4 separate regions of the Homo sapiens genome follow, and regions 2, 3 and 4 are each linked to region 1. Evidence: fine-mapped expression QTL. A gene starts in region 1. Each other region holds a variant in brackets. All regions are shown on one strand. Distances are from middle to middle.

Region 1 (6,257 bases):
GCACCTTCAGCTTTCTGCTTTCCCCACACCATCTCTGGACTCCGTCGCCAGCCAATGATGCCATGACCTTCTCTGGGCCTGGCGACCCCAGTCCCTCACTGCTGAGCCCCAACGACGTGTTTCCAGCTGCCTTGGGAAGCAGGGGGGACCTGTGGCTTCCCCACATGACACAGAGCTGCCCCCATTCCATTGCACACAGGGCAGTCTCTTCTCTGCCTTCCGGATCTGCACCCCATCCTGTGCCCCGATTCTTCAGGGACGTTTCAGACATCTTCCCCCTCTCCTCGGTCCCCACCTTCACTTGTCGGGTTGTGGGGGGTGGGGTGTCCCAGCCCTTTTCCTGGTCTCTTGGACCAAAGTCTCCTCCCCCGCTCTTCCCCCATCTGCCTCCTTCGAGGCCCCATCCGGACCCAACTTCCCCTCTACTCCTCTGCCCATCCCTCCGCATCATTGCTGGTACAAGTCCCTGGCGTCTAGACCAGGGCTTCTCACACCTCCAATTCTGGAATCCCCTGGGCATCTTATTAAAATACACATTCAGATTCAGCAGGTCTCAGGCTATCTGTAGGTCTGAAGACCACATTTTGAGGGCTAATCAGGCCTCTCCCTACCCAAACATCTTCTCTGGCTCCCCAGTACCTTTGATTTAAGCCCAAACTCTACACTTTCAAAATCTTCCAGAATCTGCCCCTTGCTGCCCAGTTAGATCCCACTTCCTTCCAAGCATGGCTCCATGCCCTACCTCTCCACCTCAGCCAATGCTGTTCCCTCTGCCTGGGGTGCCCTTCCTGCTGGTCTCTGTTTATCGAAGCCCCCTTCTTCTCCTTCAGGTCCCAGCAGGGGCTCTGGGGTCTACACGCTTAGTTCAGATCCTGGCTGTTATAGAAAGGCGTGGGTAGCCCTCCCTGTACCTCGGTTCCCCTTCTGTAAAGTGGGGATAGACTGTTGTGAGAACAGAAGGAGAAGATGAAGTGCCTAGCAGGGGCCGGATATCTGGTGTCCCGTGTTTGGTTACAGCCCACACACCTGGAGGCCCAGCCAGGTCCAAGCTGTGCGACCTTGGCTAAGTTACTTCATGTCTCTGACCATCTCTAACATACAAGTGGTACCCAACCCACAGGGTTGTGTGGATAAAATGAGAATGATCTGTACAAGCAGAGCATCTTACACCATAAAACCTCCAGACATAGCAGGTGATTATTAGTCCTGTTATCAGCACTCATAACAGATAGTGTTGTGTTTAACAAGTCATTGAATTTCTCCCCCTTTACTCCCAGAGACCCCTGGATGCTGAATACCAACTCCAGGTATCGCTACTATGAGAACCAGGCTTGTCTCTCTAGCCAGACTCAGAGCTGGGGGCCTGCTTCCTCACCTGCCTGCCCCTAGCTCATAGTAGGTCTCTGCAAAGTCCGACGGTGAGAGAGGCAGGCAGAGCTGGGCAGCCAACTCCGCCCAGCCAGGCAGCCCCATAAGCCTCTCCTATGTGGCCAGAGTGGCAGCTGGCTCCGCACTCTCTTCAGCCATCTGCAGAGAGAGTGGTGCCTTCAACTCTCCATCTGTGCCCTTCTGGTCAGCACGCTCTGTGGGGTGTGTGTGTGGTGGTGGTGGTGGGGGGACAGCTGCCCTGTGGGCCTGGTCCCTGGGGAACAGCTGAGGCTGCCCGGGTTACCAGTTGATCAGGCCCTGAAGGACTGACCTTGGGGAAACTGAGGCAGAGGTGGTGGTATGTCAGGGACAACCCATCCTCCCCTAGATAACTCACTTGTCCTCCCTTGTTAGTGGGCCCCCAGTGTAGGCTGGCCTCTGCTGCTTTGGCAATAAGGGAGTTCCCACTGCAGCCCCGGGAGAGAGCAGAGGGTATGACATGGGCCCAGTCCCCACTGTGCCTCCCTGCCCCAGGTATTGGCCCACAGCCTGGACTGGGGACTGTGAATGTGGGAAGCACAGTGCCGTTTTCTGGAAGCTCTCACCTTATGGCCTCCCTGCACCCCACGGGGTGGCTTTGTGGCCCTTCCTTTCTGCAGCTTGATTTCAAGCAGGTAGGTGAGGAGTGCAGTTCACCTGCAGCAGCCCTGGCTCCTAGGCTGCCCGAGACGTTCCATTCATTCTTCCTCCACGTGGCATGGGGAAGCTTTTCCTGGCCCCCTTGTTTAGAAGGCAGATCTCTACCGGAGAGAAGGAATCTCAAGTTCCCCAAGCATCCACGTGTCCAGGCCCCAGGCTGAGGCCTGGGGTGCTGGATTGCTGAGTGGTTAGGAGACCCGCTATGGAGCCAGACGGCCTGTGCTCCCGCCATCCCAACTCGGGCACCTCCCTGCTGTGTGATCTTGGGCAGGTTAATTCTCATCTCTGAGCTACATGTATCTGCCTTAAGCTCCCTCTTCTTCATCACCACATTCACAGGGAGTATTTATTGAGGGCTTGGCAAGTACCAGGCACTGGTCTGAGTAGCAGGTTTGACTTCTCTCCACTGCCAGGGGCGCTCTGGAGCTGGAATGCAGACGGTGGTCAGCGAGTGTAATTACTGTTATTGTCACCACTCACCCTTCTGGCATTGTAAAAGCCTCCCAGCACATCTGACTGAGGAATCATCTATCCTCATTGCTCGGAGGAGGAGGGCAGACAGGAGCCTCTGCAGGGAGTGTGAGTTATCCAAAGCCTCCTGACTCGAGAAGGGCACTGAACCCCAGCAGCGGGAGGTGCTGCTGACAGAGGAATGACCAGAAGGGGGATGGGGCATGGTCCATTTCCACACTTCTCTGTCTGAGCTTTTGGGGCCACTGGGAATGGCTCTTCACCCAGGCCTCGGTTTCCCCTTTGGCTCAGCAGATGGATTAAAGGAGGCCGTTTCCAGAAGCCCCTGGGGTCTCAGAATCCAAAATGACTTGGGATGTTGAAACTGTGGGTGCTTGAGGAGCACTGAGAGGGGAGACGGGTCACCCCCCGGGGGGACGCAGGTCAGCCGGTCAGTCGTGCGTGGCCTGGCTGGCCTCCTGCCCGGCTGCCTGTCACCCGCTCCCTCCCGACTGCCTTCCGCTCTGCCGGTCAGCACTGGCTCCCGTCGGCTGCCAAGGAGGCTGGACTCTCCTTCAGGAAAGGGCAGTTGTCGCCCTGACCTGGGGGGTGGGCGGACAGCATCCAAGGGCCCTGTTGCCGTGGCAACCCCGGCCTCTCTGTGGGAACTTTGGGGAGACTGGCCCTGGGAGGCGACAGATGGAGGCTGAGGAAGCAGAGTGATCCCCGGCCCCTTCCTGTCCCTGAACACTGTCTGCCTGGATGAGGGGTGAGGCTGAGGTGCCCCCTTGCCCGGCGCTGAGTCATGGGCATCCCCCAGGATCACTGCCTCAGCGCTCTCAGCCCTGCCCCCTCCTGGTCTCCCTCTGAGAAATCCATGACTCACATATATCGTCCGTCATCCCCAGTCAAGCTCAGGGAGGAGGGAGGAGCCCAGCTGGGGCAGGAGAGGGGTGTCTCCCCACCAAACAAACCCGGTCCCTCCCTCTCCGCACTAGCTGTCTGCCCTGCCCTGCCGTAGGAGATGGGCTGGGAGCCTCCCACGCTCTCCAGCTCACTCGGCAGGCAGCGGGGACCAGGGCTGGCAGGTTAAGCCTCTGGGGGTGGATCCTGAAAGGTGGTCCAGCCGCCTGGCCCTGCGTGGGACCCTCCACCTGGCAGCAGGTACCCAAACAAGGGCTGGACAGCAGGTGGGAAGGGGAATAGTGTGAGTGTGAGAGTGTGAGTGTGTGAGCGTGAGTGTGTGAGAGTGTGAGTGTGTGAGTGTGAGTGTGTGAGAGTGAGTGTGAGTGTGAGTGTGAGCGTGAGAGTGTGAGAGTGTGTGAGTGTGAGTGTGTGAGAGTGAGTGAGAATGTGAGTGTGAGTGTGAGAGTGTGACTGAGCGTTTGAGTGTGAGAGTGTGAGTGAGTGTGTGTGAGTATGAGTGTGAGTGTGAGTGTGGGAGTGTATGTGAGTGTAAGTGTGGATGTGTGCATCCGTGCACGGGTGGCTGTTGGACAGTGGGTAGGGATGGTGGTGAAATGGGGAAATGGGGGGGTCTTGGTATCTTGGTGGGATCTAGTCCAGGTCAGCATGGCTGTGGGTGGGTCTCTAGAGTGGGGGCGGACCCACAAGGAGATGCCTGGGAGGGGACTGGGGCCCAAGGGGAGCGACACCTCCCGGGGCTCCCAGGCATTTTGTTGCTGGAGAAACTGAGGCTCAGAGTGGTACAGTCACTGGGCCCAGCAAGCTGGGGTCTGCTCTTTAGGCTGTGAGATCAGTGCTCCTACTACACAGATGGGAGAACCGAGGCTCTGGGAGGGCAGGTGGCTTGCCCAAGGTCACCTAGCACATCCAGGTATAGAAAGCCAGGGGCCAGGCTCAGGGAGGGGGTGGCACTTGAGGGAACTCCTGAGGACAGCTTTCCTGCAGCTGTCCCTGGGGCTGGGTCCGGGGTCCCCACTGAGCAAGGGACAGCCGTGCTCTTCATCACCAAGGCCAGCTTTGGGAGAAGGTGGCCCCGCAGGGTCTCTGAACGTGGGCCACGTGGGTGAGAGTCCTGGAACCGGTGACAGGCAGACGGGGAAGCGCAGGCTGCGGGCTGAACACCCTGCCCGTTGCCACCAGACCTCAGGGCTCCATCTGCCTGGCACTGATAGGACTTCCCACCCTGGTCCCCGCGGGGGCTGGGAGTGTGTAGGAAACCAATGATTCCTGTCCTCCCCCGTCCCCAACCCACCTCCCCTGCGTGGTAGAGTTGGGGTCTCCCTGTGCCCCACTGGGAGAGGTCTGATGTTCATTTTACTGCGTAGGGAGGAGGGGATGGGTCAAGGCAGGGGCCTCCCACCCCCACCAATGTGGAGCAGTTGTAGCCTGGGGTCCACGGGCTGTGTAGGAATAGCCTTTGTTGCTCCTTCAGTGGACCAAGAAAGTTATTTATAGAAGCATTTATTGAGCGCTTACTGTGCACTCTGTGCTCTGTCGGGAACATGGCCGTGGGTGAGGCAAATAAGGTATCTCAGAACTCGTGAGTGGCCCAGACCCAGAGCCAAGCCCCCTGCCCCTCCCAGAGGATAGCCCCGGGCAGCCTGTTGGCTCCTTGGGGTCAGAGACTGTGTGAGAAGGAGCATATCTGGGCATTAATAACCATGGGCTGCCAAGTTGGCTCCCCAGAGCCCAGGCAGGGGTCCTGTTGGGCTCTTTCCTGCCAATGTCCAGGTGTGGAATGAGCTCTTAGGGCCAGACCTGACCCCTTCTTTGCTGCAGGGACCCGAGATATGCACCCACCTTGGTCACAGCATCACTGTGGCCCCCTTGCCCTTCCTCTCCTCTCGCCTCAGGAGCTCAGCTGCTAAATGGGTGTGTAGGGGTGATCACAGCTGCCCTGGCTCCCGTAGGCCTGGGGCTTGGCTCCGAGAGTGTCGGGTGATGGAGAACGCCGCTCCAGGTGTGATCTGTGACGGACAGGCTGTGTCCCGGCCTGGGCCACTGGGCAAGGGCCAGTCAGCCTGGTGTGACACTTCCTTTTGTCAGGGATACAAACAAACAAACAACAGTTAGGAGGTGAGATGGAGGCGTGAGATAAGCTTGCTAACAGAGGGCCCAGAGAAGGGGAAGAGGACCAGGGAGCCTCTGCGGAAGGCACTTAGGCTGGGCTTGGGAGAAGGTGGGAGGGGAAGGGACTGATGTCTGTATGAGCACTGTAGGGGGAGTCCTAGTGGAGGAAACTACTTAGGAAAACATTTGGGGAACGATACAAGCTGGGGACCACGGGGAGGGTGATACCGGACCCCTGGCATGGGTCATTTCATGGGACTTGATGAGCCAGGCCAGCAGGTCTCAATCTGCTCTGTGGGGGGGAAGAGAGGCAGGAGGACTCGCCAGGCAGGTGCTGTGTGGGGCTGGGGGCCCAGGCTGCAAACCCAGCAGGACGGGGAGGGCCAGGATGGGTGTTCAGTGTGAGGTTGGCCAGGCAGTCCCAGTCTCTGGCTGCTGGGTTAAGGCTCAAGCTTGGGAGCAGCTTCACGTGTGAGGGAGACGAGGGGGAGGTGGCGCCCAGTCGAGGGGAAGGACAGGAGAGAGGTGGCAGAGCTGCAGCAGGGTTGGTGTAGGGGTTGGCCTCCTGGCAAGGCCCAGCATGACAAAGGCAGGTAAGAGGAGTGGGCAGGACAGCCATGGAGGGACCACTGCGGACCGTCCTCCAGCCGGACTGGGATGCGGGTTCCGCCATCCTGTGCAGAAGCTGTGTGCAGGTGGGGTCT
Region 2 (5,326 bases), 33 kb before region 1:
TATTAATTTTTATGTCACATTAGACTCCAAGGCCTCTCATCCCCTGCATGGGTAGGAAATTCAACTCGTCCTTTATGGAGAAGGCCATTGGGTTAAACAAAAATCTGGGTGGCTTAGGTTGCTTGCTCCTGGAAGGAAAACGGGGGAAGGGCCTGGGGTTAGACTCCGTGGTCTCAACGTGGTTCTCTACACCCTCCAGGCTTGGTCCAGGGAAAGCTTTGCTAAGGCTGAGAAGCCTGCTTCTCAGAAGCACGCCAGACCTGCTTTCAGGCTGTGCCTGGCACAGTGGGAGCCTCTGGTCTCAGACAGGCCCTGCATTTGTTCCCTTACCCAGGAACCCAGGCTGCAAGAACACAGACCTCTCTGGAGTGCCTGGAGCCTGTGGGCTTGGCTGCTTCCGCTAGCAGATGTTAGAGTGGGGAGAGAGGTGTCACCCAGCCTGGCCCGGGTGGTGCAGGGCAGGAGGGTTTCCTGTGGGAGGTGACTTCTACACCAAGACCACAGTGTTGAACAGGGTTAGGCAGGAGAAAAGGGAGGGGAAGTGGCACAGGCTTGGGGTTGGGTGTGGTGGGGGTAGAGAGAGAATGCAGGAGAGTGGGCTTGGTGAGCAGAGTGGCGGTGGGAGGAGCTGGAGAGAAACCAGAAAAATAAGGAAGAGCCAATTATGGTGCTCGGGAAGTAGGGAGATACTGAAGCTCTTTGACCAGGGGAGTTCCTGATCCAAGTGGTGTTTCAAGAAGATCACTCTGGCAGGGGGTGGAGGCAGGTTGGAGTGGCATCCAGGGAGGAGTAGCTGTCCTAGATTGTGCTTGGGCATCAGCAGCAGGTGATGATGAGCCACCACACCTGGGTCATGCTGCCAGCAGGAATAAAGGGAGGGGCGAGGCTCTGGGAGGTGCTGGGAGGTAGAACCCACACTGCAGGTCAGGTGAGGGTGAGGGTGAGGTTGGAGCATCATCAAGGCTGATGTCTTGGACTCTTGGGTAGTTGGGGTGGCCTGTCTGTAACTAAGATGGGGAACCCAACGGAGGGAAGAGAATTGGTGATGTGTGTGGCTCGGTTTGATTGATAGATTGGTGGATTTTCAGAGACAGGATCTACTCTGTTGCCTAGGCTGGAATGCAGTGGCACAATCAAAGCTCACTGCAGCCTCAAACTCCTTGGCTCAAGTGATCTTCCCATCTCAACCTCCTGAGTAGCTGCAACTACCGGTGTGCACCACAATGCCCAGCTATTTTTAAATTTTTCTGTAGAGATGGGGGTCTTGCTTCATTGCCTAGGGTGGTCTTGAACTCCTGGCTTCAAGTGACCCTCCTGCTGCAGCCTCCAAAAGCATAAGGATTATATGTGTGAACCACCATGCCTGGCCTAGTTATTTATTTTTAAGCATTAAAAAATGGTAAACATTTAAGCATTAAAAAATGGAGAATACACAGGATATGCCCATAGTTTAACAAAAATGATAAAGCAAATCCCTGTGTAACTACAACCCTGGTAAAGAAAGAGAACATTGCCACCACCCCAGAAACCCCCACCGCCAATCCTCCATCACAACCTCACTGTGCTGGAGAGGGAAACGTTATCCCGACACTTAGAGGAATCTCTCTCTCACTTTTATTTATGGTTTTACCACCTGTACAGTTTTAAACAATACAGTTTTAGCTCTTTAGTTTTAGTTTTAAAACAATACAGTTTTAGTTTTGCTTATTTTGGAAGATTACATGAATGAAACCCACCTTCTTTTACTCAATGTTATGTTTGTAAGATTCATCTGCATTGCTGTATGTAGAAGTAGTTTGTTCCTTTTCAATGCTGTATACTATTCCAATATGTGAACATACTATGATTTATTAATCCATTAATTTCCTGGTGGATGTTGGGATGTTTGCAGGTTAAGGCTGTTACCAACAATGCTACTATAAGCATTCTTATAGGTGAGTAGCGGTACAAATATGCATGTACTTCTGCAGGCTATGTATCTGGAAGTGGACTGTCTGAACCACAGGTCATGAGCATCTTCAATGTTACTAGATAATGCCTGCTTTCTAAAGTGGTTGAACAAATTTACAACCCCTCCTAGCCATCCTCCACCCCCTCCTAAGTGTTCCACAGAGCCACACTCCGTATGGCTAATTTGGGGAAATCTCATGGGTGGGTCGTGATGGCTCATTGTTATTTTAAGTTGTATTTCCATGGCATGTATTTATCGGCCAGTTGGATTTCCTCTTTTGAAGTGCCTATTCAAATGCTTTTCCAGCTTCTTATTGGGTCATTTGGCTCTATAGCAGACACATCTGGGGCCAGCATCACTCTGATTTCAGCCTCCATGTCATGGAGCCTCCCACTGCCAGAAAGCCAGTCTTTCCACATTCTACCCAGGGACTCATCCAACCATGTGGGAAAGCCTGGAATGGTGGAGAAATGCCCCAGCCTCCTGACCTTCATGGAAACAACCCTGGAACTCTCAGGGGTCTTGGAGGTCCCAAAGGAACCCAGTCTTCAGTACCTACAGCAGTGACCTTGACAATGCCC[G/A]TGAACTGGGTTTCTACCTCCCTCCCCCACCAACTCTGCTGCTGGCATGACCTTCTAGATATACTGCCTGTACCCAAGTCCTTGTCTCAGGCTCACTCTTCATTTCTTCCTTGTCGATTTGTAGGAGCTATTTATGTATTCTGAATAGTATTCCTTTGTCAGTTATATTATTGTCAATATATTCTCCCATTCTATGAGTTTTCTTTTTCACTTTTTTTTCCCTGCCGTCTTTTGACAAACAGACATTCTTTAGTTTAATATATTCTAATTGATTAAACTCTTACTTCTGGTTAGTGTTTTTTTGTGTTTTTTTTTTTTTTTTCAGAAATCCTTCCCTGCTCCAAAGTTTATGTTATGGCTTGGAAGTTTAATAGCTTTTCACCCTTAGGTCTTTAATTGATTTTGGTAACTGGTATGTGCTAGGGTCAAATTTCATTTTTTTTCCCGTAGGGATACCCAACTGTTCTAGCACCATTTATTGAAAAGTCAACTCTTCCTTCAATATTCAGAAATGTCACCTCTGTCATAAACCAGGCAGCCACATGTGTATTAGACTGCTGGTGAGTGCCCTATCTTGTATATTTCTGCATGTCTTAAATTAGTTCTCAATTAAGTTTTAGAATTTTATCTGGGTTTTGCACATTTCTAGTTAGATTTATTTCTCAGTACTTGATATATTTTGAAGTATTATAAATGATGGTCATATTAGTTATCATGGCCATGTAACAAATCACTCCAACACTCAGTGGCTAAAACAACAAAATTTATCTCCCCATTTTTGTGGGCCAGGAATCCAGGGGTAGCCTAGCTAAGTGGCAATGGCTCAAGGTCTCTTATGAGGTTTCAGTCAAGTTGGAGGACAGGGCTGAGGTCTCATCTGAGGGCCTGACTGTGGAGGTGATCCACAGGGCTGCCTCATGACATGGCAGCTAGCTTCACCCAGAGCAAGTGATCTGAGAGAGAGAGATAGTATCAGAGAGAGAGAGAGAGAGAGAGATAGTATTCAAGATGGAAGCCACACTCTTTATAACCTAATATCAGAAGAGACATCCCATTATTTCTGCCATATTCTATTCATTAGAAGTGAGGCACTAAATCCAGCCCATACAAGAAGATGAGATTACCCAAAGGTGTGAATACCAGGAGGTAGGGTTCACTGGGAGACTTCCTTAGAGGCTGCCTATTGCAGTGATTTTTTAAAAATCTTCATTTCCTGATTCTTATGGCTACTATATAATTTTACATAATTGTTATTTTTTTTTGAGATGCAGTCTCACTCTGTTGCCCAGGCTGGAGTGCAGTGGTGCCATCTTGACTTACTGCAACCTCTGCCTCCCAGGTTCAAGTGATTCTTGTGCCTCAGCCTCCTGAGTAGTTGGGATTACAGGCACATGCCACCATGCTCAGCTAATTTTTGTATTTTTAGTAGAGATGCTGTTTCACCATGCTGGCCAGGCTGGTCTTGAACTCCTGGCTTCAAGTGATCCACCTGCCTCAGCCTCCCAAAGTGCTGAGACTGCAGATATGAGCCACTATGTCTGGCCTCACAATGAAGTTTTAATATTGATTTTTGTATTCAGCAACCTCGCTAAACTCTCTCATTGAATATAATAGTTTATCTGTGGATCGCTTTGCATTTTTCATATACTCGTCATATCATCCGTGAATGATAAAGTTCATTTTTATCTTTCCAATCCTTGTATGTTTTATTTTATTTATTTTCCTTGGTACACAGGCCAGGTCTTACAGAACAAGAGTTTAACAGCTGTGGTAATAGTGAGCTTCCTTATCTTGTTGCCAATCTCCAAGGAAAAGTTTTTAACAGTTTCACCTGAAAGTATACTATCTGTTGTAGTGTTTCATATACCTGTATATTAGATCAGATATTATCAGATTTAGGGAGTTCCCTTCTGTTTCCAGTTTGCTAAGGGTTTTTGTTTGTTTTAAAATCATGAATGAATGTTGAATTTTGTCAAACATCTCTTTGCATATATTGCGATCATTATTAGAATTTTCTACTTTGATCTTTTAATGTCATGAATTACATTACTTTTTTTGGTAATGTAAAATATGTATTGCATTTGTTAAACCTAACATTATCCTTTTATATGTTACTGGATTTAGTTTACTAATTTTTTAAAAGAATTTTTGCATCTATGTTCTTGAGAAAGAGTAGCCTGTAATTTTTCTTTCTCATACTGTCTAGTTGGGTTTTGGTGTCAAGAGTATGCCAGCCTCATAAAACAAGTTTGAGTCTTCATAAGAGTTTGGGGCCAACTTGGAATTATTATTTATTCCTAGAATGTTTGGTATAACTTGCCAGTGGAACTGCCTGGCCTTAAGTTTTCACTGTGGGAAGATTTTTGAGTATAAATACAAATTCTATGTCTAGGACTGCTCAGAATTTCTATTTCTACTTATGTCAATTTAGGTAAGCAATGCTTTTCTAAGGCTTTTTATAAAATTTAAATTTATTGGCATAAAGTTGTTCACAATATTATCTTTTTATATAATTATGGTCATAATAATGTTCTCCTTTTTCTATCTGACATAGGTTATTTGTGCTTTTCTTTTCTAGTGTCTTCGTTATTTCTCCAGAGGTTTGCCAATTTTACTAATCTCTTCAAAGATCCAATTTTGATTTTTGTTCATTTTCTTAATTGTATGCTTACTATTTTATTAGCTTGTGCTTTGGTCTTCCGTATACTTTTTTTGGGGGGGGGTTGAATTTACTATTCTTTTTCTAAGCTCTTTGAAATGGATGATTAGCTCATTAATTTTAAGTCTTTACTCT
Region 3 (5,000 bases), 21 kb before region 1:
TTATCAACTGTATATGTCCATAGTTTGTAAAAAGAATAAAACAACTGAGGCAAGCTCTTGATGCTTCTTGTCTGGCATTGAGGCTGTGGGGAAGGTGCCTTTTGGAGGGGCCATAGCTGAGGGCATGCACCGTGACGCTGGACCGGTTCACTGTGCAGTGGGCATTCATTTAGCTTCAAGTTGTCTTGTTTCTGTATGTGGTGACAGCTTTCTGCTGCCATTCTTAGCTAAAGGCAAAGATGGGGGGGTCAGCTGGCATGAGAAGTGTTTAGTTTTTGTTTTGTTTTTTAGTTAAGTGTGGTGGTTTTTAAACTGTAGAACTCTTCATTGTCACTAAAGCAAAGAGTCACTGCAATGAAAATTCAGGAACCTTCTGTCCTTAAACACGATTTGCAACATTCTGTTATTTTTTTTGTATGTTTAGAATGCTGAAATGTTTTTGAAGTTAAATAAACAGTATTACTTTTTTTTAAGTTGGATAAAGGATATAAACATTTGTTTCACAGGAGAAGAAAGAAAAATGGATGATGAAGTTATGAAAAGATGCTCGGTTCCACTCAGAATTACAATAGGCACACTAAAACAATTTTTTGCCCATCTAGAGAGATCACCTCCACATTGGAATGGATATGGTGGGACTCTAAATTGGTACTACTTTTTAAGGGGGCAATTTAGCAGTGTCTATACCTTTTTTTTTTTTTTTTTGACAGGGTCTTGCTCTGTCACCCAGGCTGAAATGCAGTGGTGCCATCATGCTCACTGCAGCCTTGACCTCCCCGGCTCAAGTATCTGTACAATTTTTAATTGCACAATTCTATAACCTAGTAATCCCTCTTTTAGGTATCTTTCCTTTAGAAATAGCCACACATGTGCCAAAATATATATGTTAATTACTGCAAAGTGTATTACACTAAAAAATAGGACCCCTTAATTTCCTTCAATAGAGGGTTATGGCTAAATAATTTTACATTCTATGCAATGGAATTCTTGTACTAATGAAAAAGAATGAGATGGAACTATACATTCTAAGCAGAAATGATATCCATTATAACTTGGCAAGAGAAAGAAAAGCGAGTTGCAAACACTGTGTATAGCATACTAATTCTATTTTTGTAAAACAATTGCATATATGAGTTACAGGGATATATAATAATCATGTCTCACAATTACTGAATGTTTACTGTGTAAACCAGGAGCATTGAATTATTATTACTCCCATTCTACATATGAGAAAACAGGAACAGAGTGGTTAAGTAATTTGCCCAAGGCGGCACAGCTGGTAAGTTACAGAGCAAGGATTTGAACTCTGGCAGCCCAACTCCACAGTCTGAGCACTTAACCCTATACATGGCCTTATAGGCCAAAAATACTTCTGTTAACAGGGATGACCTGGAAAATCAAGAGTGGAGGGGCAGAGTCACTTTTTAATAAATACTTCTAAATAGACATTAAAAAACACGAACTGGTAAAAAGGACTTATAGTGAAAAGCCCATTTCCTGCAAGCCCCCTCCCCAGAGGCAACCACTTCTAATAGTTCGAGCTCATGTGGCAGTTACCTCCAGAGCCATAAATAACATGCTTCTACTGCCATTTCCTGATTTATTAACCTTGGACATTATCTGTTGACTTCTGCAAACACTCAGAAAAGGAAAAATCAGCTTACCTTTTTTCTCCTTTCTTCTTGTTATGTTGCTTCTTGATAACAGGGCTGTTTGCTGCCACTGGCTCTGGTCTAGACCCTGGGCTGGACACTCGACTGCACAGTTGCCAAGACTAGGCCCACTGAGGTTCAAGACAAAAAAAGGACTTGCCCAAAGTCACTGTGAGTTGGTGTTGGAGGTGGCACCCGGCTCCTGGTCTGCATGGCTCCAGGGCCGGGCTGTCTCTGTGATACCCTTTGGCCCACCCTGAGAGTGACTCTTGTGCCACCCCTGGCCCACGCGGGCCTCTCTCACTCTGGCAGAGGCTTAGCATGGCTGGGGTGGGTGGCCCTGGCTGGGTTCCTGCTGAGGGCTGGCTGAGGCCTCCTGCTCAGGCAGGGGCAGGCATATTTGCAGAGCAGCAGGTGCAGCCTCCCAGTGTTTGGCCAGCCAAGGGTTTTATTCTCCAACACTGCCAGACCTAGACTTTGACCCTCAGGGACTTCTACACAGCTGGCCTTCCAGATCACTGCCCCCATAGCCTCTATATCTCCAGGGGAAAGGCTGAGCCAGTGGCTGAGACTGGCAAAGTGCCGAGCACCAGATACCCAGGACCCTTAGGGCGAAACCACCAGACTCACATGCCCCAACCCTGCAGTCGCCTGGGGCCATCGGGCGGGTGTGGGGGTGGGGGTGTATAGGGGTAGAAGGAGCTTTAAAAAATTACCAGTGCTGGCCAGGCATGGTGGCTCATGCCTGTTATCCCAGCACTTTGGGAGGAATAGGCGGGCGGATCACTTCAGGTCAGGAGTTTGAGACCAGCATGGTCAACATGGTGAAACCCTGTCTCTACTGAAAATACAAAAATTAGCCAGGCGTGGTGGCGCATGCCTGTAATCCCAGCTACTCGGGAAGCTGAGGCAGGAGAATCACTGGAACTTGGGAAGCGGAGGTTGCAGTGAGCTGAGATGGCACCATTGCGCTCCAGCCTGGGTGACAGAGCGAGACTCCATCT[C/CA]AAAAAAAAAAAAGGATGTCCTGAAGGCCTCTTCAGCCCAGAGAGACATGGGCTTGCGGGCTGGGGGCAGACAACAAAGAAACACGGGGTTGGGGTGCAAGCCTGGGACTTGTAGGGGCCCCTAGCAGTGAAGAAAGGCTTTGCCTAGCACACGGTGGCCCCTGAGAGGATGCGGGTGGCACCGTCCCCACCCTTGTAGTCCCTTTTCCCAGACATGAGCTCCTGGCAGCTTTATTTGGGGTAGAAGAAGGGTCCTATTTATGCTGTGTCTGCATTTAGAGAGGCTGTTCACTCATTAAGTTACAGACTCTCCACCTTTCTGAACCTTGGTCTCCCCATCTGTAAAATAGGTATATGGTCAGGAATGGGGGTGGGAATTGAGGATTGTGGGAGCCTTCTGGCTTTAAAATTATGAGCCCTGAGGAAGATCCCTGAAAGAGCCTGTGCTAGGTAGGTTATGACTTTGGCTGCTGTAACAAACTCAAGAGTAAGAACCCATATAAACAAGAAGCCGTTTACTTCCATCCCATGCGAGGGACCAGGCTGCACGGTGGCTGTGGTGGCTCCTGGACTTTGGGCACTCATACCCCTTCCCTTTTTGCTCCTCCAAAAGGGTGCACCTCTTTTTTTTTTTTTAAGAGCATGATGCAAGATTTGCAGACTTTACTGATGGCTGCATCCTATTGTTCAGAACTTGGTCATGTGGCCACCCAGTTCCAAGGAATGTTAGGTAATAATGTCTTTATTGTAGGGGGCCATGAACCCAGCGAAAATATGGGGTTCTATTGGTATAGAAAGGGGAGGTGGATATTGAGGAACACTTACAGCTTCTGACATGGAATCTAGAGGTTGCTTGCTGGAGGCCCCGAGGGTGAGATCTAGCCTTAGATAGGCTTTGTTTGGCTTATGACAGGCTTTAAATCCATTTGAATTCATCCCCAACTTATAACAATTAAGATTTTCACATTAATTTCAAATTTCTGGCTTCCTTGAAAAAACTGAAGGATCAGGCCACATGGGGCTCATATTTCCTCAAGTGACAGTTCACTGGAGCTGGGCAGTGCTCCCCAGCGTGGCCCATACTCTCCAGTTCACCCCAGGTCCCCCCACTCCCTATTGTCTCCCACCCTGCCCCCTTCCTGCTCTCATTAGCTTTGCAGCCTGGCCGCTGTGGGCACTGTAGTTTGTGACTCTTGGCCCAGCATAGCCACCAGCTTCTATAAACAAGGAAATTGAGGCACAGAGAAAAAAAGAGACTTGCCCAAGGTCACCCGGTGAGCCTGGACAGAGCTGGGACTGCAGCTGCCGCCTGCACACTCAGCCTCAGCGTATTTTCTGCCGCACTGGTCACTTGAGGATCACCTGGGTGCCCATGTACTCAGGAGAAAGGATGGCCCAATGGTTAAGCCATTAGGTGCTGGAATCTGATGGGTCTGGGTTTGAATTTTGGCTCTGTCACTTTTCAGGGCAAGTAACATCAGCTCTCTGAGCCTTATTCTTTTTCTTTTTTTCTTCCTTTCTTTTTTTTTTTTTTTTCCTTTTTTGGACAACGAAATGGGATAATAATAGAGATTGCCTAATAGAATCACATGAAGATTAAAGTGAGGTGCAGGGCCATTGGCACTGACGGTGGGCACCTCCTTAAATGTTACACCCTAAGTATTTTGCTCATTCCAGCCTGCACAAGAAATCCTAATTCCTGGGACAGGAATTCAGAGACAAGTGGAAAAGCAGAGGGCTTTATCCCCATGCAACTGGGGGATGTGGCTGACCCTTCTGTGCGATGCAGCTCGGTTTCCTCCCTGTGGGGCCACAGCAGCCCCAAATTGCTGAGATCAGTCTGCATGGCAAATAGAATCTGTGTCAAGCTGCAGAGGTGGACCTGAGCCATTCTGTGTCGGGCTGTGCCGGAAACAAAAACACCTTCTCTGTCTTAGGAGCTGCGCCCACCTGCCCTCTCTTTCTTCAGCAGCCAGAGCTGCCTGCTCGGGTGTTAGTTCTGGCATGACTTGGCGTAACCTCAGGGAGGCACCACTGCGTCTCCTGTCAGCTCTTCTAAAGCTATGCCTCCGAGTATGGCGTGCTTTGGGGCCAGCTGTGACAGCTGGGGAGCAGCCCTATGCACCCCCACTACAGTCCAACATTTGGTTTCAGATTCTATTTATATACATTATGTACCTAGATACTTGTGGGTTTGATTTGGTTTTGTTTTGATTGCACAAATAACATTAGAACAGCTATAATGGAAACAATTCTAAAATGGAAAAAAAAAAAGGCACGCACAATGCTATCAGTTGGCTCGGCTTCCTAAAAGCACTGCTTAAGTGCTGGCAATAAGCCCCGC
Region 4 (6,257 bases), 46 kb before region 1:
CCTCGGTGCTGCCACACTGAACAGCTTTCGGTTCCCTGAACAGGTTCTTTCTCATCTCTGGGCTGTTCTCTGTCTGGAAGGCTCTCCCTGTGTGTCTCATTTGTGGAGTGATGGCGACACATCCTTCAAATCTCAGCCTTGCACATCCTCATTCCCCTCAATGCAGACTTCAAATCTAGGGTGGGGCCTCCTTTCAGCCCCACCACTCCCGCCCTTCCCCCATGACAGACGTTATTTCTTTGTATTATGACTGTCCCCATCTGTCTCAGCTGCCAGACCGAGGGCATTTTGGAGACAGGTGCTGTGTCTCATTGGCTCATTCATTCACCCATCATGTAATTGTTAAACACTTGTTATATTCCAGGCACTGTACTAGTTGCTGAGGATATATAAATGAACAAGTCATCACATTCTTGTGGGGGAGGAATGTCTCACACTAAACAGTTTAACAAATAGACATAAGATATGACAGGTGGCGACAAGTGCTGAGAAGAAAAATTGAGGAGGGTGAGGGAGTAGAGTGGCCAAGAGCCTGGGTTTCAGCAGAGGGAGCTGGAGAATGAACCCAGGGGCGCTGGAGCTGGGGGCGTGGGAGAGTGTCAGAGAGCTGGCATGAACTGGCAGGTTGCCTGGAGGGGAGGGCTGGTTCCAAAGCCAGTCTTATAGCAATTTTTCCATTTCTTGATAGTGAACTTTGGAAGAGCTAGGGGTGGGGAAGATGGGAAGTTGAACCACCTCTGAGATAAAACTCTCTGAGGGGGCTGAGGTGGTCCTGGGTTGGGGTGCCCCCTGCTACTGGCAAGAGAGAAGCAAACTCAATATGGAGGTAAGCTTCCCTTGGTTAGGCCAGGAGGATGCCCAGAGTGAGACGAAGCAATGGGCTTCAATATAAAACTTACCCAAATCACAAAGTAAGCCACCGAGTGAGAGTCGGCAGAAAAGAAGGAAGCAACAGATTTTAGACCCCAGGGACGGAATACAGAATAGCCATATATGACACGTTTAAAGAAACACAAGATGCAATCGCAAAGATGAGCATATAAACGAATAGAAATGAAGAGAGACAGAGAGATTTGGGGGAAAACAAATGGAACTTCAAGAAATAAAAAGTATTATCTCAAGTTGGATGTGGTGGCTCATGCCTTTAATCCTAGTGACTCAAGAGGCTGAGGCGGGAGGATCACTTGAGGCCAGGAGTTTGAGACCACCCTGGGCAACATAGCAAGACCCCTGTCTCTATAAAAATCAAAAAAATTAGCCAGGCATGGTGGGGCACACCTGTAGTTCCAGCTACTTGGGAGGCTGAGGCGGGAGGATTGCTTGAGCCCAGGCGTTTGCGGCTGCAGTGAGCCGTAGTCACTCCACTGCACTCAAGCCTGAGTGGCAGAGCAAGACCTTGTCTCTACTAAAAAAAAAAACATAAAAAACTCTCAAAATCTAAAATTCAACAAACAAACAGTTGAATAGAGAATTAATTAGCCCAGCGTGGTGGCATGTGCCTGTAGTCCCAGCTACTCAGGAAGCTAAGGTGGGAGGATGGTTTGAGCCTGGGAGGCAGAGTTTGCAGTGAGCCGAGATTGCACCACTGCACCCCAGCCTGGGTGATAGGGCCAGGCCTTGTCTTAACAACAACAACAGAAAAAAAAAAAAAAGAGAGAGAGAGACAATTAATAAGCCTGGACTTATATACATAAAGCATGCAACAGAGATAAGAAGATGGATAACATGAAAAGAGATTAAGAGATATAGAGAATAAGAATGAGAAGATCTTATATATTGGAGTCCCAAAAGAAGAAAATAAAGGGAATGGGAAAGAGGTGGTATTTGAAGATGAAATGGCTGCAGGTTTTCCAGAAGCGATGGAAAAACACAGTCTCAGAACCAGGAAACACGAAATATCTCAAGCATAATACATAAATCCATGCTTATACACATTTTATTGAAACTACAGAATGTCAGAGGGAGAGAAACGATGAAAGCAGGCAAAGAGAAAGGACAGATTGCCTACCAACGACCACAGAACGTGAGCTGGCTCCTCAACCACCGTGACAGAAGCTAGGAGGCAGCAGTAATAGCTTTAAAGTGATGACAGCAAATAAATGTCCACTTAGAAGTGTGTCCAGCAGGGGCCAGGTGCTGTGGTTCACGCTTGTAATCCCAGCACTTTCGGAGGCCGAGGTGGGCAGATCACCTGAGGTCAAGAGTTTGAGACCAGCCTGGCCAACATGACGAAACCCCGTCTTTACTAAAAATACAAAATTAGCCAGGTGTGGTGGTGCACGCCTGTAATCCCAGCTACTTGGGAGGCTGAGGCAGGAGAATCGCTTGAACCTGGGAGGCAGAGGTTGCAGTGAGCCAAGATTGCGCCACTGCACTCCAGCCTGGGCGACAAGAGCAAAACTCCGTCTGAAAAAAAAAAAAAAAAAAAAAGAAGTGTCCAGCAAAACTGTTACTGGTGGAAGGTATCCGAGTTACCGTTGGTGAATCCGTCTGGATCTGCAGCAACCTCTTGCCTCCTCAGAAGAAAGAGTTTGACTGAGGGGTATAAGGCAGAAGGAGAGACTGAGGTAAGTTTCAGAGCAGGAGTCAAAGTTTATTGAAAAGCTTTAGGGCCGGGAGCAGTGGCTCACGCCTGTAATTCCAGCACTTTGGGAGGCCAAGGCGGGTGGATCACTTGAGGTCAGGAGTTTGAGACCCCCCTGGCCAAACATGGTGAAACCCCATCTCTACTAGTAAAAACACAAAAATTAGCTGGGCCTGGTGGTGGGCGCCTGTAATCCCAGCTACTCGGGAGGCTGAGGCAGGAGAATTGCTTGAACCCAGGAGGCAGAGGTTGCAGCGAGCAGAGATGGCGCCACTGCACTCCATCCAGCCTGGGCAACAGAGCGAGACTCTGTCTCAATAAACAAAACAAAACAAAGAGCTTTAGAACAGTAAGGAAAGGAAGGAGAAGAAAAGTACAATGTGGAAGAAGGCCAAGTGGTTGACCTGAGAAACCGAGTGCGCAGCTTGGCCTCTTGACTTGGGGTTTGATACCTTGGCATACTTCCAGGATCTTGGAAGTAAGCTGCTTCCCACTCCGGAGATCTTACTGGGAAGCTGCTGATCAGTTGCAGGTGTTTTCTATTAGGAGACTGCCTTTCCCCCGTACTGGCTGTGACCAATTACTAAACAGAAACAGTTAACAACCACTTGACCACCACCTGATGGTCACCCAGCACTCCTAGTGTGTGTGTGTGTGTGTGTGTGTGTGTGTGTGTGTGTGTGTGTGTGTGTGTGTGTTGGGGGGAAGTCCTTTCCTGCCCTGCTCATACCTAACTAGCTACCTACTGTAATAAAGCTACCATTCAGGAACCAAGACAAAAAGGAAAAAAATACATTTAACATTTACAGGTAAATAAAAGCTGAGAATGA[G/T]CCAAAGAAACTCCCGAAGGATGTACCTCAAGAAGGAAGATGATTCCAGGTCAGCCTAAGATGCAAGAAGAAGGAATGGTGAGGTTAGAAAATGGTAAAAGGCTGGGTACAGTGGCTCACACCCATAATCCCAGCACTTTGGGGGACCAAGGTGAGAGGAGAGCATGAGTCCAGGAGTTCAAGACCAGCCTGGGCAACATGGTAAAACCTCGTCTCTACTAAAAATACAAAAATTAGCCAGGCATGGTGGTGTACACCTGTAGTCCAGGCGACTTGGGAGGCTGAGATGGTAGGGTCACCTGAGCCCAGGGAGGTCAAGGCTACAGGGAGCGGTGATTGTGCCACTGCTCTCCAGCCTGGGTGACAGAGTGAGACCGTGTCTCAAAAATAAATAAATTTAAAAAATAGTTAAGTGTAGCTAAAGCCAATCCAAAAATCATCTGTATAAAATAATAATTTTATTTGTGATATTAAGAAGAAGGAATGTGAAATGTTGGAGAATAATAGTGTATAAATCAGGAAAAGTAAGACTGGAGTTACAGTGTCCTAAAGTGTTAGCTAGCATTTGTGCGGAGGGGTAGGGAGGGTGTTAAGATATTGTTTAATATGAGATATCATTAATTAAATACACGTGGTAAAACTTCAAGGGTTTAATTGCCTTTAGCTCAAAAAAAGCAATTTCAAGGGCAACAACTGAAAAAAAAAATAAAACTGGAATGTAGACATTTTATTCCAGTAGAGAGAAAAAAGTGGGGTAGATAAAACAATCAAATAAAACTCAAAGAAAAAGAAACAAAAAGTGGAACTAATAGAAATCCAAAAGTAAGATAATACAAACATACCCAAATATATCTATAATTATAATAAATATAAATGGACTAAATGGATCAGTTAAAAGGCAGGAGATATTAAGATTGAATGCAAAAACAAAACCCAGGTATATGCCATTCATAAGAAACGCAGCTCAAGTAAAAGGACATGGAAATGTTGAAAGTAAAAAGATGAATCAAGGCTGGGTGTAGTGGCTCACACCTATAATCCCAACACTTTGGGAGGTTGAGGAAGGAGGATCGCTTGAGCCTAGGCATTCATGACCAGCCTGGGTAACACAGTGAGACCTCATTTCTAAAAAAAAAAAAAAAAAAATTTGAAAATCAGCAATGCTTAGTGGTATGCACCTGTAGTCCCAGCCACTTTGGAGGCTGAGGCAGGAGGATCACTTGAGCCCTGGAAGTGAAGGCAGCAATGAGCTGTGATCATACCACTGCACTCCAGCCTGGGCAACACAGTAAGACTGTCTCAAAAAAAGAAGAAGAAAAAAAAAGATGAATCAAGATATGTGAAGGAAAAAATAACCAAATGAGAGACTGTGTAGCAATTTTGATATAAAACAAAATATGTTTTAAAGCACAATGCACTAATAGAGATGATCACAACATAATGATACAGTGTTTAATTCACCAAGAAGATATAATAAAGTAGCCTTAAAAGGTATAAGGCAAAAATTGGGCCGGGCGTGGTGGCTCACGCCTGTAATCCCAGCACTTTGGGAGGCTGAGGTGGGCAGATCACGAGGTCAGGAGATCAAGACCATCCTGGCTGAATGGTGAAACCCTGTCTCTACTAAAAATACAAAAAATTAGCCGGGCATGGTGGCACGTGCCTGTAGTCCCAGATACTCAGGAGGCTGAGGCAGGAAAATGGTGTGAACCCGGGAGGTGGAGGTTGCAGTGAGCTGAGATCACACCATTGTACTCCAGCCTGGGTGACAGAGTGAGACTCTGTCTAAAAAAAAAAAAAAAAAAAAAAAAAAGTATGAGGCAAAAATTGAAAGAAGTTTTTAAAACTCTACATAATTGGAGAGTTATGCCATATCTATGAATTGGAAGACTCAATATTGTTAAGTTGAAAGGATTCCCTAAACTGGGGAGATTCAATGATATCCCAAGCAAAATCACAACAGACTTTTTTCCCCACAAAGGCACAAAGGCAATTTAATGGAGGTAAAGGATAATCTTTTCAACAAATGGTACTGGAACAAATAAGCGTCTATACGCAAACAATATGAACCTCGACCCATATCTCATACCATGGACAAAAATTAAACGAATCATAGATCTAAACATAAAGTACAAAGCTATAATACCTCTAGAAGAAAACATAGGCAAAAATCACTGTGACTGTGGTTAGACAAACAAATCTTAGGACACAAAAGCAGGCAAAAATAGATAAACTAGACTTCATTCATAGAGAAACCAGACCTATTTATAAAAAATAGATAAACTAGACCTCACCTCTGCTTTTCAGAAGACACTCTTAAGGAGAAATAAAACAAAAAACTAGAAGAAAAGCTTTGCAAAAATACATATCTGACAAAGGACTTATATCCAGAATAAATAAGAACTCACATGCCAGGTGCGGTGGCTCACACCTGTAATCCTAGCACTTTGGGAGGCTGAGGTGGGCAGATCACCTGAGGTCAGGAGTTCAAGACCAGCCTGGCCAACATGGTGAAATCCCATCTCTACTAAAAATACAAAAATTAGCCAGGTGTGGTGGTGCATGCCAGTAATCCCAGCTACTTGGGAGGCTGAGGAAGGAGAATCGCTTGAACCCGGGAGGCAGAGGTTGTAGTGCACCAGATCGTGCCACTGCACTCCAGCCTGGGCGACAAGAGCGAAACTCTGTCTCAGAAAAAAAAAAAGGAAAAAAGAACTCTTACAACTAAAAAAAATATAATCAAATAAAAGATGGACAAAAGGCTTGAACAGACCTGTCACCAGTGAAGGGATATGAATGGAAAAGAAGCACATGAAAAGATGCTCAACATCTTTAATTATAAA

The links.
Region 2: its variant is fine-mapped to the expression of ADGRG1 in whole blood (TOPMed, PIP 0.98).
Region 3: its variant is fine-mapped to the expression of ADGRG1 in whole blood (INTERVAL, PIP above 0.99).
Region 4: its variant is fine-mapped to the expression of ADGRG1 in whole blood (INTERVAL, PIP above 0.99).

What each region holds. Positions count from the first base shown.
Region 1 is chr16:57,625,122-57,631,378 of GRCh38, forward strand. It overlaps ADGRG1 (adhesion G protein-coupled receptor G1), which reads left to right and starts at 3,509. Exons shown (of 14, transcript NM_201525.4): 1 at 3,509-3,681. RefSeq lists enhancers at 2,690-3,345, 3,346-4,001, 5,970-6,257 and a silencer at 3,551-3,620.
Region 2 is chr16:57,592,383-57,597,708 of GRCh38, forward strand. The region is part of intron 1 of LOC105371291 (a long non-coding RNA gene); the gene reads right to left. It overlaps LOC107984889 (a long non-coding RNA gene), which reads left to right and starts at 2,973. Exons shown (of 2, transcript XR_001752212.2): 1 at 2,973-3,092; 2 at 5,111-5,326. RefSeq lists an enhancer at 530-609. The variant G/A (reference allele first, on the strand shown) is at 2,533.
Region 3 is chr16:57,605,064-57,610,063 of GRCh38, forward strand. LOC105371291 (a long non-coding RNA gene) reads right to left here and starts at 1,959. Exons shown (of 4, transcript XR_933627.4): 1 at 1,665-1,959. It also overlaps the pseudogene HMGB3P32. RefSeq lists an enhancer at 4,784-4,883. The variant C/CA (reference allele first, on the strand shown) is at 2,657.
Region 4 is chr16:57,578,857-57,585,113 of GRCh38, forward strand. The region is part of intron 1 of LOC105371291 (a long non-coding RNA gene); the gene reads right to left. Among named protein-coding and RNA genes, the nearest start is that of ADGRG5, 39 kb to the left of the region's middle. The variant G/T (reference allele first, on the strand shown) is at 3,415.